Linked DNA regions of Homo sapiens. The protein of the gene in region 2 purifies or fractionates together with the protein of the main gene of each other region. This does not show direct contact. Each region holds a gene or a part of one and is shown on either strand. Other genes may lie near its edges.

Region 1 (3,500 bases), on a different chromosome or scaffold from region 2:
ATTAAAAAAAAATTTTTTTTTTTTAGAGATGGGGTCTTGCGATGTTGCCCAGGCTGGTCTCAAGCTCCTGGCCTCAAGCGATCCTCCCACCTCAGCTTCCCAAAGTGCTGGGATTACAGGCAGTATCCTTCTAATGTCCTTGGTCGGGCCTCCTCCAGCCTGTGGCTCGAGGGTCTAGATCTCCTACTGGCCTGGGTGGCATGGAGGGTGTAGTCTAGGTGGCCTGAGGGGTGCCCAGGGATCCCCAGTTTGGGAAGTCCTTGTCTTCAGGGATTTCTGGCCAATGTGGTCCGTATATTTAGAGATGCTGGGAGGAGGGGGTGGGAAATTGCTGGAAACACCCTATTATACACCAAGTAAGATTTTCATGTAGGATTGGCAAGGCCTGAGTGCTGGGAAAGTGTCTGCAATGGCTACCTTTCAAAGCTGGGAGACCCCGCCACGGGGGCGGTTGTGGACTTGAGGGGCTGACCCCACAGCACGGAGGCTGCTGGGAATTCCTGCACCTTTGCCATGCTGCCACCTGAGGCAGGTTCCCAGCACCTGAGCTGCAGCCTCTGGAGTGGGGGAAATGGGGGGAAAGTAAGGGGCCGGGGTCATGGGGTCCACGTCCACCTTCCGCCCGCCTGGGCAGTTTTCTTGGATGTAAAAGGGAGATGGCTCTCCCCAACCTGCCTGGGTCCCAGTGTGGTGCTGTAGTCCAAGGGACTTGGTGTGACCCCGTGGGGATGCCACAGCATGGGTGTGTGGGACCCCCGGGGGCAGGTCTGTGGTGGAGACAGGGTGGGAGGGCCTGGCTTGAGGGCTTGCGGTCCTGGGCACTTGAGGATGCAGAAGAGGCTGCATGGTTGGGGAGGGTAGGTAAGCAGGGGGCAGCTTAGCCCTTTCCCCTCCTGTTCCCTGTGACAGAGGGGAGACCCTCCAGGCTGTTTGTGTCTTAGATGGTTGGCCGAGGGTAGGCCTCTTTGCTGGCTGGGGTCTAGCAGGGTCTCAAGGTGCATTTTCTGGCTACTGGCAGAACCACCATCAAAGCAAGTCCGTATCTTTTCGTCTATCCATCTGTTGTTACGCCAGCCAGTGAGGACCTTGCAGAGGCGTCAGGCCTGAGGGAGTCTCATTAGGTCCTGGTCCCCAGCCCCCGGCTGGCACATGAGAAGGGCCCACTTTATATTTTATTTTATTTATTTATTTAAGATGGAGTCTCACTCTGTCACCCAGGCTGGAGTGCAGTGGCGCGATCTCGGCTCGCTGCAACCTCTGCCTCCCGGGTTCAAGCAATTCTCTTGCCTCAGCCTCCTGAGTAGCTGGGATTATGGGTGCATGCCACCTCGCCCAGCCAATTTTTGTATTTTTAGTAGAGATGGGGTTTTGCCATCTTAGCCAGGCTGGTTTTGAACTCCTGATCTCAAGTGATCTGTCCACCTTGACTTCCCGGAGTGCTGGGATTACAGGCGTGAGCCACTGTGTCCGGCCCCACTTTATATTTTATTAAAAATATCGTTGAGGAGTGAAGGCTATGCTATACCAGGAACTTGCCTGGCTCACACCCTTATGTCGTCCAACCCCCGTCAAGACATAGAACAGCGCTTTGGGAGGCTGAGGCGGGAGGATGGCTTGAGGCCAGGAGTTTGAGACTAGCCTAGACAACATAGTGAAACCTCCATCTCTACAAGAAGTACAAAAATTAGCCAGGCGAGGTGGCTCATGCCTGTAGCCCCAGCTACTCAGGAGGCTGCGGCGGGAGGATCACTTGAGGCCAAGAATTTGAGACCAGCCTGGGCAACATAGCAAGACCCCGTCTCTTAAAAAAAAAATTAGCCGGGTGTGGTGATGTGTGCCTGTAGCCCCAGCTACTTGGGAGGCTAAGGCAGGAGGATTGCTTGACCCCAGGAGTTAGAACAATCCTGTAACCCCTAAAAGTTTTTGAAGCCCGTTTGTTCATCCTTGTCTCTTGTCCTGACCCCAGCAACCACTGATCTGTCTTCTGTATATGGTTTTCCATTTGTACAATGTCACATAAATGGAATCCTACAGTCCACAGCCTCTGAATCTGGCTTCACACAGCATAATGCATTTACGGCATTGCTGGGTACACGGGTAGCTGGTCCCTTCTGGTCCCTGAGTAGTGTTCCATGGTGTGGATATGCCACATACCTCTAGCCACTCTCCTCTCTAGGGAAATCTAGCAAACCGGCTTGGCCGGCCCTGCATCAGCTCGGGACCCCCCAGAAGAAGGTGGTTCCTCTTTCTCATTTTCACAAAGGCACCATCTGGCTGGCGGGGGGCCTGTGGCCTGCACCCCATCACTACCCACCCCCCACATCAAGAGCTGACCCCAAGCCGGGGGAGCTGCTCATCTCCGCCCTCAGAGCTGGAATTTCATCTTCTGTTTCTGGTGACTCATACTGTGAGCCCCGCGATGAAATTACACCTGCCTGCCGCTGCCCTCCGGGCCTCTGGCCCCATGCGATCCTCCCGCCGCCATCCAGGTGGGCTCTGGAGTAATTGAGGCTATGGGGCCAGGACAGCTGGAGGTTGAGGGCGGTGCCAGGGAGGGGAGCTGTCTGTGCCCTGGGGTGTCTTGCCCATCATCTTATGTATCCCCACCCTGTGGGAGTCTGGGGTTCCTGGTGGTGCGTCTCTGGTCTTCACTCCTGCAGCTGTTTTGCTTGGGGTAGAAGTTTCATGTTTGCCTGAAATAAGAGCAGGACTTCTGAGGGTAGGGAAGGAAGGTGGTGAAGCCACTGTTGCAGGCAGGAGCAGGAGTTAGGATCAAACGGAACAGGGCTGGCCGAGTGATGTCACATCTCTGGGCTTTGGTTTGTTCATCTGTTCTTATTATTATTTTGAGACAGGGTCTCGTTCTGTCACCCAGGCTGGAGTGCAGTGGTGCAATCATAGCTTGCTGCAGTCTTGAACTCCTAGGCTCAAGTGATTCTCCCACTTCAGCCTCCTAAGTAGCTGGGCTTGGAGGCACTTGCCACTACACCCAGCTAATTTTTTTATTTTGTAGAGATGGGGGTCTCGCCATGTCGCCCAGGCTGGTCTTGAACTCCTGTGTTCAAGTGATCCCACAACCTCAGCTTCCCAAGTGCTGGGATTAGAGGGGTGAGCCACTGCGTCCTGCCTGTTCATCTTTAAGTGGGAGAACAGAACACTAGGTTTGCAGGGCTGTGAGACTCAGCTGAGGGTAATGTGAGTGTGTGGATTACCACAGAGCCCTGGAGGGCCCCAGGGGCCACCAAGGAGCGGGTGGTGGGGACATGTGAGGCTCAAGCCTCCTGTGCCCCTTTGGGCCAGAGTAGGACCACTGTTGTTTTTTGTTTTTTTTTTTTTGAGACAGAGTCTCACTCTGTCGCCCAGGCTGGAGTGCAGTGGCGTGATCACGGCTCACTACAACCTCCGCCTCCCGGGTTCAGTTGATTCTCCTGCCTCAGCTTCTCGAGTAGCTGGGATCACAGGTGCGTGCCACCACACCCGACTAATTTTTGTATTTTTAG
Region 2 (2,540 bases):
ATTAATTGAACATTAATATCAGCCACCCACCGTGGTTGTGTGGTTCCTATCCACACATCCCTGCTTATCTCACATTTTAGCCCTATGACAGCAACATGTGTATCGGTTCCTTTCTGCCCTCTTCGTCTCACTTCTGAGAAGGGTAAAGTTACTGGTACGTGACCTGGGAGGTATCTGACCATCCTGATGCTACCCTTTGGCATATAATGTCAAGATACTCAGCTTTTATGCTGAAATAGGTTGTAATTTGTTTGAGCTGCTTTGTTTTTCAAAGCTCTTTTTAAGAGCAAAGGAGGCCAGGTGCAGTGGCTCATGCCTGTAATCCTGGCACTTTGGGAGGCTGAGGTGGATGGATCACTTGTGGCCAGGAGTTTGAGACCAGCCTGGTCAACATGGTGATACCCCATCTCTACTAAAAATACAAAAATTAGCTGGGCGTGGTGGCACACACCTGTAATCCCAGCTACTCGGGAGGCTGAGGCAGGAGAATCACTTGAACCCAAGAGGCAGAGGTTGCAGTGACCCAAGAGCAACCCCACTGCACTCTAGTCTGGGCGACAGGGCGAGACGCCATCTCAAGAAAAAAAAAAAAAAAAAAAAGAGCAAAGGAAATGCTCAGGACAAGATGATCTGGTAAGAATTTTCTCCCTTTTTTGCAGAAAATCCCGTTTTGTCAACCTAATGAAGCATTCAAAGAAGACATATGACTCTTTTCAAGATGAACTTGAAGATTATATTAAAGTACAGAAAGCCAGAGGCTTAGAGCCAAAGACTTGTTTCAGAAAGATGAAAGGGGACTATTTGGAAACCTGTGGGTACAAAGGAGAGGTTAATTCCAGACCCACGTATAGAATGTTTGACCAGAGACTCCCATCTGAAACCATCCAGACCTACCCAAGATCATGCAATATTCCACAAACAGTGGAAAATCGGTTGCCTCAGTGGTTACCAGCCCATGACAGCAGATTGAGACTAGACTCTCTGAGCTACTGTCAGTTCACGAGGGACTGTTTCTCAGAAAAACCAGTACCCCTGAACTTTAATCAACAAGAATATATTTGTGGCTCACATGGTGTAGAACATAGAGTTTACAAGCACTTCTCCTCAGATAACAGTACCAGTACTCATCAAGCCAGTCACAAACAGATACATCAGAAGAGGAAAAGGCACCCAGAGGAAGGCAGAGAAAAATCAGAGGAGGAGCGGTCTAAGCATAAGAGAAAAAAAAGCTGCGAGGAAATTGACTTAGACAAACACAAGAGCATCCAAAGAAAGAAAACAGAGGTGGAAATAGAAACCGTACATGTCAGTACAGAAAAGCTTAAGAATCGAAAGGAGAAAAAAAGCCGAGATGTAGTCTCTAAGAAAGAGGAACGTAAGCGTACAAAAAAGAAAAAGGAACAAGGCCAAGAAAGGACAGAGGAGGAAATGCTTTGGGACCAGTCTATTCTTGGATTTTGAAGCTTTCAAAGTTGGTTCTCCCAAAGTTAAATTGAAAAAATAGGTGAGAGCTTGGTTTTATGATATCCGTGTTCATACCACTTTTCTTATGTGAATAGGTTCTTTAACTTCTAACAAAGGCCTAGTAAACAAAGTGTTTAGCATGCTTGCTCTCCAACACAGAAATTGCTTTTCCTCATTTTCTAAAAGCATTATTACATTTTTTGAACATATAGTGTAATTTCCTTTAATGAAAGTGACTCTGCTTTTATTCATCAAATTGCTTTGATGGTGGAAATATTTTCTGTTGGGAGGTTATTTATTTTAAATTGGAGGATTAATGACCTTTGCACAATCTGTTTCTTGATTGGGTTTGTTATAGTTTTGAGTTGGGTATTTTATGTTCATTGGTTTTTCTCTGTGAAGCAATTTTTTTCTCCTTTATTAGATCTAACTTGCAGTGTATTTTCTAGGCTGGAAAGTGGAAAATGAAATATATTATAATCTTAGGTTACATAAAGTTTCTAAAGTTTCAAAGAGTCTTGATACAAAATCAGTTTATATTCTGAAAATATTTATAATAAAGTATTCTAATTTCTACATGTTGTTGTGTGTCAGTCTGTTCCTATTTAACAATGATTTTTCTCTTGGGAGGAGGAGAGAATAACTTGGCAGTTCATCATACTTAACAGGCAAGATCTTTTGGGTAGGTCACACTTTGAAGCTGTAAAAATTCCTTATCTATCATACCTTGCTTGCTCACATTTGAACCTGGTTTTTAAGGTAGAAATCTATGACTGACTGTTACAGGACCCCACCACTTACCCAAAGTTAGCCTTTGGGTCGGGGGTTTCCTCACTATAGTCCCTTCACTGGTCGCCAGAATGATGTTATAGGAAAAGGGGTCCGAATCTAGACCCCAAGAGAGGGTTCTTGGATCTCACGCAAGAAAGAATTCAGGGCAGGTCCATAGAATAAAGTGAAAGCAAGTTTATTAGGAAAGTAAAGGAATAGAAGAATGGCTACTCCACAGACAGAGCAGCCCAGAGGGCTGCTGGTTGCCCATTTTTATGGTTATTTCTTGATGATGTGCATCCCCC

The links. The genes of interacting proteins can lie anywhere in the genome.
Region 1: the proteins of KRCC1 (region 2) and GTF2IRD1 purify together in Homo sapiens (affinity purification with mass spectrometry; one large-scale study listed by BioGRID and IntAct). This does not show direct contact.

The regions. Positions count from the first base shown.
Region 1 is NC_000007.14:74,460,406-74,463,905, forward strand, and holds part of GTF2IRD1 (general transcription factor II-I repeat domain-containing protein 1), read left to right. Parts: intron 1-3,500. UniProt on the Homo sapiens protein: May be a transcription regulator involved in cell-cycle progression and skeletal muscle differentiation. May repress GTF2I transcriptional functions, by preventing its nuclear residency, or by inhibiting its transcriptional activation.
Region 2 is NC_000002.12:88,026,705-88,029,244, reverse strand, and holds the end of KRCC1 (lysine-rich coiled-coil protein 1), read left to right. Parts: intron 1-659; 5' UTR 660-681; coding exon 682-1,461; 3' UTR 1,462-2,040; downstream 2,041-2,540.